Linked DNA regions of Homo sapiens: regions 2 and 3 are each reported to be linked to region 1. The links are microRNA targets in miRTarBase. Many come from high-throughput screens and were not tested one by one. Region 1 holds a microRNA gene; each other region holds the end of a gene's coding sequence.

Evidence for each region. The annotated mature microRNA hsa-miR-365a-3p reads UAAUGCCCCUAAAAAUCCUUAU and lies in region 1 at 1,544-1,565, opposite strand. An mRNA with a match to its seed (bases 2 to 7 or 8) in the 3' UTR can be bound and repressed. Matches are read on the target gene's strand: a 7mer-m8 pairs with bases 2 to 8, a 7mer-A1 pairs with bases 2 to 7 and ends in A, and an 8mer does both.
Region 2: miRTarBase lists SRP68 as a target of hsa-miR-365a-3p. The part of its 3' UTR that is shown has no 7-base or 8-base seed match.
Region 3: the mRNA of SCARB2 is a reported target of hsa-miR-365a-3p. Seed matches in the 3' UTR shown: 7mer-m8 at 2,090-2,096.

What each region holds. Positions count from the first base shown.
Region 1 is chr16:14,306,757-14,310,904 of GRCh38, reverse strand. MIR365A (microRNA 365a) reads right to left here and starts at 1,620; the gene lies at 1,534-1,620. The region is part of intron 1 of MIR193BHG (MIR193b-365a host gene); the gene reads right to left. RefSeq lists enhancers at 128-247, 39-333, 2,220-2,269, 3,065-3,749, 3,750-4,148 and 1 more and a silencer at 159-453.
Region 2 is chr17:76,036,408-76,040,407 of GRCh38, forward strand. It overlaps SRP68 (signal recognition particle 68), which reads right to left. Exons shown (of 16, transcript NM_014230.4): 16 at 2,378-3,526. The coding sequence ends at 3,299. Among named protein-coding and RNA genes, the nearest start is that of EVPL, 11 kb to the left of the region's middle. RefSeq lists a silencer at 301-595 and an enhancer at 3,751-4,000.
Region 3 is chr4:76,158,284-76,162,283 of GRCh38, forward strand. It overlaps SCARB2 (scavenger receptor class B member 2), which reads right to left. Exons shown (of 12, transcript NM_005506.4): 12 at 454-3,468. The coding sequence ends at 3,430. LOC124900718 (a long non-coding RNA gene) reads left to right here. Exons shown (of 2, transcript XR_007058144.1): 2 at 1-484. Among named protein-coding and RNA genes, the nearest start is that of NUP54, 12 kb to the left of the region's middle.

The DNA of each region.
Region 1 (4,148 bases):
CCCATGATGCAGCAGAAAGTGAAACCGCAGTTGGCCCCTGCCGGCTGGGACTGATCACCCATGGTTTCCCTGCAAAACCAGAGTCCCAGGGGGCTGGTGGGCAGCTGGCTCCCAGGTCCGGCACAGTGAGGCCTGTCAGGCAAGTGCCCCTAGAGGCCAAGGGAGGTGCCCTGGCCAGAAAGGAGGGTGCTGAGTCATCGTGACCCTAAAATGAGAGAGAAATCTGAGCTATGGATCAATGCAGGAGTGGGGGGGTGAGGGGTCCCAGTGGTGTCGGTGAGCAGGGAAGGGTGGTTTCCCGACCCCCAAAAGGAAGATGTGTGACACCCAGTTTTGTCATGCTGGAGCCCTCTACAGATCTGAACTGGCAACTCCCCCATCTCCCCCCACCCCTCCCCACACCGACTACAGGAGTGCGGAAAATCCCTGAGATAAACAAGAATTCTCTAAAAGTGGACCTCTGAAACTTTACACACGACTTTCTGATTTCTGTCCCATCCTCAGGGCAGCTGTAGTTGCTTAATATTTTTCTTCCAAAACACCCACTCTTTTTTGTTTAACTGACATCAATTGATGGACAAAAAAAGGGCCCCTGTCTCCCGACCCTAAATGGAAAACCAACCAATTGCCTGAAGTACAAATCAGCGGTGCAAAGAATACCTACTAGAATAATTTTCACCTTTAGCCGGCGCCGCTTAAAATCAGAGATGTGCAAATCAGACTTGGGAGTCTGAGTTACAGGTTTCATGCCTGAGGAGCTGGTGGCTCAGAGAGACTGACTCACTTGTCCCGGGTGACACAGCAAGAGAGGCGCAGAGCTCGGGCTGGAATGCAGGCCTGGCTGATCCCAGAAACCCAGGCTCAGTGCTGGGCTGCCGTCTCCCCACCCATGAATTCCTCTGTGTGTATTCATATTATTACCTTCCATGTTTAATGCATGGACTCTCCAATTTTCAAAGCACCTTCAGAGCTTATACAACGTTAGAGCTTTTTATATATAACATTGGCTACATCCAAGAACCCTTTGAAGCCAGAGCAGGGGGTGCTGCCCCTCCCTTGGTGTATGGGGAAACTGAGGCAGCGAGCGGGGAAAGTGTTCTGTCTCAGGGAGCTAGCAGGAAAGCCAGGACTGCCCCAGGGCCCCCTGCCAAGGCGATGATCCCGGAGGCCCTGGCTGCAAGGACCAGGCCTCGTCAAACAGGTAACACTTGTTTCTTTCCGCTTTCCCTACCTCCCCCTACAACCCCCCAGAGCAAATGCTGACGCTGATGGGGAGCCACAGCTGTACTCCTTCCCAGGCCGGATCTCAGCGTCTGCCCCTGGAGGGCAAAAGCACGTTTAGCAACCAGTGTCTGCGCATGGCGTCTTTCAATTTTTCACAGTGATAACCGGTTTTGAGCACAAGAAGGCATCTACCAGGGACCCAGAAGGCGCTACAGCGGAAGAGTTTGGGGAACAGCTTTCTCTCTTCTTTGAGTTGCTGGAGGAACTCCGAGCTGATGTCTTTCTGGCCCAGGGACCCCCGAGGAATACTGCAAGAGCAATAAGGATTTTTAGGGGCATTATGATAGTGGAATGGAAACACATCTGCCCCCAAAAGTCCCTCATTTTCCCTGCGGTAACGAACCAGCTGGCAGGAAGTGGTAGCTCTCAGAGCACCAAGAGCCAAAACTAAAAAGGAAAAAATGTACAAAGTTAGAGCAAACTTTAAACAAGTGAGCGCTTTCATGGTGTACGGCGGCTCCGTGCAGACTCACGAAAGGGACCTCATCTTCTCAATAATTGGCTAAATAGGTCTCAGTGCAGCAGCTTCCACACAGACGTGCTCAGAAAACCACAGATCTGGAATCCCAGAGCAGGTTCCCAAAATGGATACAAGGATTATTCCCTAAAGCCAGGCGCATCATAGGAGACGTGACGTTTCCCCCAAACTTCAGATGACTGTTCCAGACCCTCATTAATGATCTAAGTTATCCTTCAACACCTCCTCCTCTGGAATGGGAGAAACTTAGTCCCCTTGGAAATGCTGATGAAAATACCTGGTTTCCACAACACGGACAGAAGGACTAAGGCTTGGGTAGGGGAGCTGAGTGGTTATCGCTGGTGGTGCAAAAGGGGCAAACCGGCTGGCGTGGGGGCTCACGCCTGTAATCCCTGCACTTTGGGAGGCCAAAGTGGGAGGACTGCTTGAGGCCAGGAGTTTGAGAACAGCCTGGGCAACACAGTGAGACCCCCCCCAAGTCTCTGCAAAAAATAGCCAGGTGTGGTGGTGTGTGCTTGTAGTCCCAGCTACTCAGGAGGATGAGGCTTGAGCCTAGGAAGTTCAGGCTGCAGTGAGCTGTGCTCACCACTGCACTCCAGCCTGGGCAACAGAGTAAGACACTGTCTCAAAAAAAAGGGGACGGGTTTTACTGCTAAGGTCCCAGGTGCCATCTCTTGGTTCAGCCACTAAGATCTGAGGACTAAGGAGTTCAGGGTGTCTTCCCCAAGGCATATAACCTTTGAGGCCCTGCAGGTGGGTGCCCCCTGTGCCAGCCAGCACCCTCAGAGCCAGGAAAGGGTTAACCCCTCCACATGGCTGACACCAGAGGAGGAGCTTACTACGCAGCCTGGGATATCACACTGGGCCATCTCAGAGAGGAGAGGCCTCTGTGAGTTCTGTGAATGGAAGTGGATTCACTGCCTTCAGATTGAGAACGGGGTGAAAAGGCATCCCCACACAGAACCGACGCCCCAGTCGCTAGCTGGCTCCTTGGCACCCGTCGCATGGCCCCGAAGCTCTGGCAGGGACTCTGGGCACCTGTACCAGTGAGCACCCGGCCATCTCGGCCAGGTCTGTGAGGGAGCGATTCTACCCTTGCCATGTGACAGCCGGCAACTAGGGCCCAGATCTCTTCTTTCAAGTAGCACCTAAAATATTCTCCGGGTGAACCTAGGGCTAAATACGGCATGGCCTACAGGTGCCGGGTCTGGACCTTTTAACGCCATTCTAAGATACGATCGAGAACCCACGAGGCCTTTGGTAGCCTGGAGTCCAGTTACTGGGGCCAAATGGGAGTCCCACGGGTTTGGCTGACTCAGGGCTGGGTGCAACTTCCTGGAGCAGGCACATGTTGGTGCCAGGGCAGAGAGGCTGCAGACAGTTTTCTTGTGTGTTTGAACCCAGAATGCCAGCCCAGTTCTCACTCTGGGCCGACCCCCAAGGTGGCTTAGTTGGTGGCCCCTTTTTCTGTCCACCTGGCCCACTTCTTTCCACTTCCAGCCTGCAGCCCGGCCCTTCCTGGCCTAGGTTTTCCTCCCAGCCTGATCAAAGCAAAAGGCTCAGCTCCCAGGTGGGAGGCCTCACGGAGCTGGAGAAGAGACCAGCAAACACATGCACGGTAACTCAGATGTGTTATGTGTTGTCTTGCTGGCTGGGAGCTACGCCTCCTAGGCCCACCCCAAGTCGAAGGATCGCAGCCCTGGTGCTCGAGAGCAAGGGCTTGGGGCTGGGCTGCAAAAGCTCAGCTTTGCCTCTGAATCTTCTAGAACCACGTTTGCACTCACACAGGACAGATTTGCTCTGAGCCTGTGGGATAGCCTCATCTGTTCCCCTTTGAGCATTTGGAAAGCAAAGTGGGGTTCTGCCCTCGCCAGAGCCCACAGGGTCACCAGGCTATTAAACCCTGCAGAGTCTCTGGGGAGGCTGACTTTGAGAGCCAAATACCCCATCTTCTGGCTGAACTGCTGCAGGCTTCGTCTCGGGAGGAAAGACCCCCAGGCACCTGTCTGGACTTGTCTGGGCACCAGTAGTGGCTCTGAGGCCACATCTGGGCCTCGGCTGGCAGAGGTCTGGGCTGTCTTGGGCACAAATGCCAATGCCAACAGGCCCAGCACTGATCTCACACGATTCCAGCAAGAGAGCCTAGATTTTTGCACATCTCTGAGAAAACTGTCATACCACACCGCACAGCTAACCTTAGGCGCAACCAGCCACTAACTCCTCTCCCTGCCCAGGCGAAGTCCCCTTTGCTGCAGTGGGGCAGCATTTCAGGGACACGGAGAAAGAAGTTTGCTTTGTGGTTCCGTAAACTCAGACGGATGATATAAAATCAGAAACCTTATTTTAAAGCTTGGTAAATATGTGCATATGTCCCCTACAACTGGGG
Region 2 (4,000 bases), not on the chromosome of region 1:
AAAAGTATAAGGGGACTGAATGGAGCTCTCTTCGTCCTCTCTTGATGTTGGAGACAGAAGCCTCCTCCAGGGTCAGAGCTTGCTGACAGCACCAGAGTCCATCCTGGAGGAGGGACTGGAGCCAGCACAACACGGGAACACCCACTTGGAACAGACCCATTCGCGGCCCCCGGGGCCTCATCTGCATGTCCTGCCCCGTGGGAAGGCAGGACTGTGTGGCCTCCGAAGTGTCTTTTTGTGAAAACCCCCAGCGAACAGCCTGCAGGGCCCAGGGGCAGTGAGGGCCTGACTTGAAACCTGCTCCCATCAGAGGCAGAGCCACTTCCCAGGGCCTGAGGACAGGAGGGGGTCCTGCATCTGGCGCTCTGTCCCCCACGACACAGCCTGCTTAATGTCCAGGAATCCCATGTGAAGGGATGTGCAAGCTCGCCGGAGACCTTGGCCCTGCCAGATCTGTCTTCTTATGTAAACACCTGCTTTTAATACTAAACAGCATCACTGGCCGTTAACAGCCAATGCTGCTCAGAGCGCCTGGCAGGAGCACCGGGAGGAATGGAATTTGTAGTGTGGCCGCGAGACAAAGCATTAGGCAACCTGAGAAGGAAAAGGTGCAGTTGGGATTCGCCTCCATCTCTAGTTTATAGGTCCTGGGTCCCCACTGAGGCCAGCACTCTAGAGTGGGAGGGGCTGGGAGGGCTGTGGGAAGGACAAAGGGACATCTTCCAGGAGGATGAGCGGTTCCCCATGCCCGTCCCCCTCACGATGCTGCAGGCAACGGCCTGAGACTGCAGCACAGCAGGGCCTGCAATTGGGTTCTTGGAGCTGGAGGACAGCGTGGCTGTCAGCACAGAGACGAGACAAGGGAGGTGCAGAATCTTGGCCCATGGCCCTGGGAGGAGGATGAGGACATGGATGAAGACCCCCTAACCCCCAAATCGTGGTTCCTCAGCCCGCAGGGACGCTGACCTGATCAAAACCCAGGACCTCAACCTGAGACCAGTCATCTGTGCTATATATATTTTTCTTTTAAAAAAGTTTTTTTGGTAGAGACAAGGTCTCACCATGTTGCCCAGGCTGGTCTCGAACTTCTGGCCTCAAGTGATCTGCCTGCCTTGGCCTCTCAAAGTGCTGGGATTACAGGCGTAAGCCACTGTGTCCAGCCTATCTGTGCTATATTTTCAGAAGGGGTGAGGATAGTCCTAAATTTATATGGCATAGATGATGAAACTTTCAATTAAAAAAAAAAACCCCAGCTTCCTGAGGCTCTCCAACCCAAAACAAACCCCGGGGGATCAGGGCCTCTCTGCGAGCATCTCAAGGTTCTAAGCCACAACACAATTCTAACAAGAAGCCTGATTTGTGTCTCACCATCCTTTCTAGCTCTTATAGCCTTCCCTCCCTGCAACTTACTGGGAAAACAAAAGGCACAGCCAAGCCCACAGTGGCATTCTAAAACCACCTTTACAAAAATTCTAACGGTGAGATTATTAGAGTGAAAAAGGTCTAGCCTAACCCACTCCATCTTGCTTCTAACCTCCAAGCTGTCCTTGTTCATTCCTGGGAATAAGCCGAACTCACTTTGGGAGAAGCTTACAGTTTACTGTTTAACTTTGAAACAAAGATGGTAACAGCACTTTCCGGAAATAAACCCCCTTCTTGCCTGGGGCCCAGACTGCCTTTGTAGGACTAACGAATTAGCCACAAAAATTGAAATTATGGTTTAGGAGTCATGCAGCCAGAGGCCCAAGATTCTGAACCTTCCCAGTTGCTCCTAGGGATGACATCACTGTTGTAAAACCTAAGAATGGTGCTCGAGATATTTTTCAGACCCTGCACTTTATGGATCAGCTGGCACCATCCATCCAAACTGGCTCATCTGGTCTTGTAGCCCCCACCCAGGAAACCGACTCAGCACAAGAGGCCAGCTTCAACTCCCTATGACTTCATCTCCAACTCCCTGACTTCATCTCCAACTCCCTATGACTTCATCTCCAACCTGACCAATCAGCACTCCCCATTTCCTGACCCCCTACCCACCAAATTATCCTTAAAATTCCCAGTCTCTGAATTTTCAGGGAGACCAATGTGAGTAATAAACTCCAGTCTCCTGTTTAGACGGCTGTGTGTGAACTAAACTCTCTATTGCAATTCCTGTTTCCATGAATCAACTCCATCTGGGCAGCGGGCAAGAACCCTCGGGGGGTTACAATGCCATCCTGAAACAATGCTCTTGGATTTTTAACCAGTCAGCCTTTTCTTCAAGCCACTGGGTTTGCTCAAAAACGGAAAACATCTAAGCCAACATTTCTTGTGACGAATTTTCTTTCCTATGTGACAGATGAGTTTTGATTTCCAAAGGGAATCGTTAAGTGTCAGGTACATGTTTAAATCACTTTTATTCCTTGCTTTCTTACATTGTTTTTGTGACTTCTATTATTGATGTTATAATAGAAGTGAAAAGGGATGACTAAGGAAAAACGGGGGGTAACGAAGGGGATTAAAATATAATGGCATCTAAAAATTACACATTGGGAAGTCCTGAAAAATAGTGCCTCTAACATGTGTATCTGGCATCAGCCTCACCTAGTTGCCGGTAAGTCAGGTTACACTTGACCTCACCGGCTTCACGCAACTAGGCTCCCGAGGAGAGAACGGGGACTGGACATGAGGGAGGGCATATAAGAAATGGGCACAGTCTCCGTCATCTTTGCCTTTTAATATAAGATTTGGTTTCATCATTTCTGAGTGTAACATATTTCTTCTAAAAATAGAGCTCTCTGCTTGTCTGAAACTTCTTAGCGTTCACTGGGAGGTGAAGGGGAATAAGGCTGACCGTAATTCTGGGGTGACGTTGCCAGTTTCATAGTCATAGATAAACTTCTCAAGGGCTCCTGGATGCTCACAGCAAGGATGAGTTCATTTCAAATCCATGGTACTGAAGAAGCATGACAAAGCGTTTCAAGGCCCCATCTGTGCCTGGTGTGGACTCCTGAACGCATTACTGACCAAAGGCAATCAATCACAGCTCACAGGGCACCAGACAGCAGCGGCCCCTTTCCCAGGAGGTACAGGAGACAGGATGACCCTGCACACATTTACCAGAAGACAACAGGGTGCTCTCCTGACACGCTGCTTAAGAACGTGTACAGACACAAGATGTAGGAATGCAGGGCCGAAGATGTTAAACTCTTGCCCCGGGCCAATGCAGACCTGGATTTAATATCATGGAACTTGCTGGGATTTTCTCACAATACAGATTAAGAGTCAGAATCTCCCCCGCCCCCGAGGAAGAGCCTGGTTAGCTCCTGAATCCAAAGATGCCCTTGATGTATCCAGTGAGGCCACTCTTGGTCTTCTGTTCCAACTTGTCCTCAAGGGGTGGGAAAGCCACATGGTTGAGGGCCAGGTCAAAGAACAAAGGCTTGCAGGGAATGGGCTGGAAGCCTGGTGGGAAGTGCACAAGGTTGGCTTGCTTGGTGACAAGGGAAGGGTCCAGGCAGAATGTCTCAAACCGTTCAACCAGAGGCTGGAAGTCAAATCAAAGAGACGTATGTAGCATCGGTCACAGAACACCCTTGGTGAACATTCCTGAGTGCCGACTGCCTGGTTCAGAGCTTTACAGGGGCCATCTCACTCAATCACTCAATCCCGACAGCCTCCTACGAGGAGGGGCTACCACATCCCTGCCTTGTAGTCAAAGTCACTGAAACCCAGAGAGGCTAAGAGAGTGGCAGGCTAGGACTGGGGTGCAGGCCTGTTGGCCATGTTACGAGTTAGAGCTCTTACCCACGGGTGCTACTCTTTACAGCAACAGGTTCCTCAACCCTCTTCCCAGGGATGATCTGACATCTAGGAAGCTTTATGCAAGAAGCTTTGAGGTTGGGTAAGAGAAGGGAGGGAGGTGGGGGGTTTCCTTAGAAATTTAGGGTCCACTGCTCTATAATGAGCATGCATTCCTAGTTTGTTACTAATCCTGCTTCGTATTCCTCAAAAACCATGG
Region 3 (4,000 bases), not on the chromosome of region 1:
GTTAGGACAGGTGGATGATTTGGGAAGCAGCATTGAAGGGCTGGGCGATTAAGACAGGGAATAAAGAAACACTGATAGAAAGTAGTTACCACTGTGGGCAACCCTAATTGAGGACCCATGTGGAATAAGCCTGAGAACTGGTCCTCTGAGGATTGAAACATCTATCAGCTGACTGACTCCTGCCCCATTTAGTTGAGGGTTGCCTTGGGTTATTAACTCCCTGATACTCCTATGGTGCTTTGAGGGCTCTTGAGAAAGACTTAAGACAGAAAAGCAGAATGTGGGACTGCTTGGAGTGAAACTTGTCAGGCTGATTGTAACTGTCCACTACAGCGAAGCTGAAATCAGACATGGCCCAAGTGTGTGACTCAGGGCTGCATCTGTCAAGGAACATCTTTCCAGGGAAACTCCATAAACAACAGGACATCCAATGACATATGACTTCTAGAGCAATTTTATATAAAGTGGTTTTTTATTAATGAAACATTTCATTGCATTAAGGGTAGAAATAAACATGTCAAGAACCGCATGAAGTGAACCAACTGTATAAGCTACATGAAGAGCATTCTGGTCAGTATTCTTGTTAACAGGCACAAGCAATTTAGTGATAATGTCCAGAGGGCCAAGGATGCGGACCACCTTTTGCAGAACTCATATCTCGAGCAGTTTAAATTAAAAATTAGCCTCCCTTAAGTTAAAAACCCCAATAGGGGTTAGTCGTGTAGTGCTTGTTCCACTTGACCATTAGTGATCTTTCTAGAACATGAGGAAATCAAGTCTGGTTAGAAAAGCCTGGAGCTAAAAGTGGCAAAGCCCATTTCCTGTCCTGTGCTCAACTCCTAATTTTCCCTGAGAGAAGTGAGTTAAGCTCTCTGTCTTGGTTTCTTCCTCTCTAAGTTGAGGATCATGGTACCAGAAGCTTGCATTCTGTGATCATGACAGTGCTTACAATCACAAAGCCTTTGGGGGTCTTTCTAAGATAACTGCCGCAAGAAAATGAGCATGAGAAATAATTCATCTTCAACTTAAAGCCAAATAGGTGCATTCATTCCTCTTAATCTATAATTTTGACTGTAGTTTGTAGATCTGTCTCAGACTTTTCAGAAGGATAGTATCAAATGTGATTTAAACCAAGTAACTATTAAGAATCATAAAACAGGCCAGGCCCGGTGGCTTACGCCTGTAATCCCAGCACTTTGGGAGGCTGAGGTGGGCAGATCGCAGGGTCAGGAGATTGAGACCATCCTGGCCAACATGGTGAAACCCCGTCTCCACTAAAAATACAAAATTTAGCTGGGCGTGGTGGCACGCACCTGTAGTCCCAGCTACTTGGGTGGCTGAGGCAGGAGAATTGCTTGAACCCGGGAGGCAGAGGTTGCAGTGAGCCGAGATCATGCCACTGTACTCCAGCCTGGCGACAGAGTGAGACTCTCTCAAAAAAAAAAGAATCATGACACAAGTATGGAAGTAATGTTTTTGGTCTCCCTGCCAGTGTGCAACTCAGTCTAAATGTGTATATCATTAACTGTTATCATTTACAGTATTTAAAATATCCTCCTCACAGATGATTATATCCTGATAATAGGACTAAACCAATAAGTATGCACTAGCATTGTCAATTTTATTAGTATGGATAAGTACATGCATAATTAAGACATGCCCAATTATCTAGTTAAATGTTGATAAATTCTAAAAATGTAGATATTTAGCATTATTGAAGACCAAATATTTTTGTTAGTTTTTTTACATTTTGGTGAGTTGGAGTATCTAAAGGTTCTATCTTGATTCTATAGAAAATTTGAGAGTTTAATGAATTGCCTCTTCAAGAGGGGAAATATATCACATATTGTTTTAGTGTAGAAAAAGGAAAAATTGTCAGTAAAACAATTTATTACCTCAATACAGGGATAAGAAGCTATGGAAATGAAATCTATATTTTTTTCTTCATTTGCTTACATTGAAATCCAGTTTTAAACAAAAAAAATCCTTTTGAATGGTTCAGTTGTTAAGAAATTCTATAAGCACTTTGTCAGCTAAATGTATAGGCTTCTCAATTCAAAATGAATGCTGAACTTTGAGAATCAAAGAAAATGCCCTTAAATATGCTTGAATTCTGAACACTGTGACATATGATGGCTCCCAATTCCCTGTCTTAGGTTATGCTGAAACCAAGAAGTCCTTTGAAAAGTGGTGTCTCTGCTTCTGGTCCTAACAGACCTTTCTTTAAAGTACTTTGTGCAATATTTTAAACATCCATCATTCTGTCAGCAAAATGATTGTCACAGGAAGTATAGGGCACACGTTTCTCTATTCAGTGAGTGACAGTGAGCTACAAAACACTGGAAAGAACTGAAACTGAGGAAGGAACTTGTAAAAAGAACTTCAAAATTACCAAGAAGGCGGCTGTCCCAGAAGAAATATCTCTTTAGTCTAATCAGACTTTCTGAAACTTATGTGTAACTTAGGCTGTAGATAGATGGATTTCCCATATTCATAATTTTACAAATAATCACTCAATATTAGATTAATTAATACAGTAACATATTTGGCAAGGGCGACTCAGGAAGAAAAATCAGTTACTCATTACATTCTCTCAGAAGCATCTTTTCGTAGCATGATCATTTTGACTAAAAAAAAAACAGTTAACTATCCACAAGCATCATAACTAGCAATTAATTCTACATGAAATATCTGTACTTTATCCTCACCAACATTATTTATGCATTCTCTTCGTTCACAAAAGTACAAGTTAAAAATCCTTAGGAGCTTATCACTATCAACTCATGGGTATTGCCCCACCCAACCCCTTTCCCATTTGATTCTACCCAGTATTTTATTGCAGTTGGAAGACTGAGTTTTCCTGGAAGAATTATGAACTGAAGATCAGCATAAAATGTAATATGTTTTAGAAATCAGATGCATTTGAATGATATATTGGATGAAGCTACCATTTTACCCTGGGTCCCGAACTCTTATTTACTTCTGTTTTGCAAGTGAAATGGAGGAATACAACATAAAATGGTATATACGCATTTTGAGCACAAAGTTCGGTGAATGAAGCATACTGAATGAAGTTAGACCAGTAGCATTAACAAGTGATGCAGAGACATTTTACCCACAATAGTGGTCACAAAATTCTGGAGCTACCAGCACCCAACAACAACAAAATTACTATACAAGGGTTTATTAAATACTTGCTAGACACATAAAAGAACAATTTCAGAGCCCACATGATTTTATAAAGCTTAATGGCCAGCCATGTCAGCCTGCTCTTTAACCTCTGGCCAGAATGTTCCTATCACTTGCCAGCGCCGTGTCTTTTTCCTTCTTTCAACAGGCAACAAGCCTGCAAGGAGGTGGAGGGTTTCCCCACGTCATCGTCCAGGTCAGGACAGCTCACACAGTTTCTTCACCAAGCAAAGGCAATGTTTAGGTTCGAATGAGGGGTGCTCTTTCATCCGCTGTTCCCTGAAACACAGAAGAGAGAAAACAAGTTAGATGTTCATGTCAGAAACTTCTCCCCAGTGTGAAAAGTTTGGGTGGGGAGTGGGGGCATGGAAGGAGGAGAGACCTATAGGAAGGTGGCTCATCTCACTCACCTCCCCTCTTGGGCTGCTGCTTGTTCTTGAAGATTCAGCAGGCCTAACCTTTCCAGGAGGCCTTCTCTGACCACTCCCACCCTCAATACCAGAGCAGTACCCTTCTCTGTGTTGATCTGGATTATAAAACTTAGACTCTATTCAACTTGCCTCCTTCCTGGTTTGAAACCTACTAAGGAGTAGTGTCTCAGAGGTATTAGTTCTCAATAATTCCTTGCTTGTTGAATATATGAGGAAGGTTAATTGTAGGAGCAGTAATTAACATTTCCATGAGGTTTCATTTGTGCTTAAGACAATTTCAATGACTGCATAAAGTCACACTGGAAGATCCACACATAGAAATGGCAAAATAGTTTGCCTCACAGCTAATTCAGGCTAAAGTGACTGGCAGGGGATAAGAG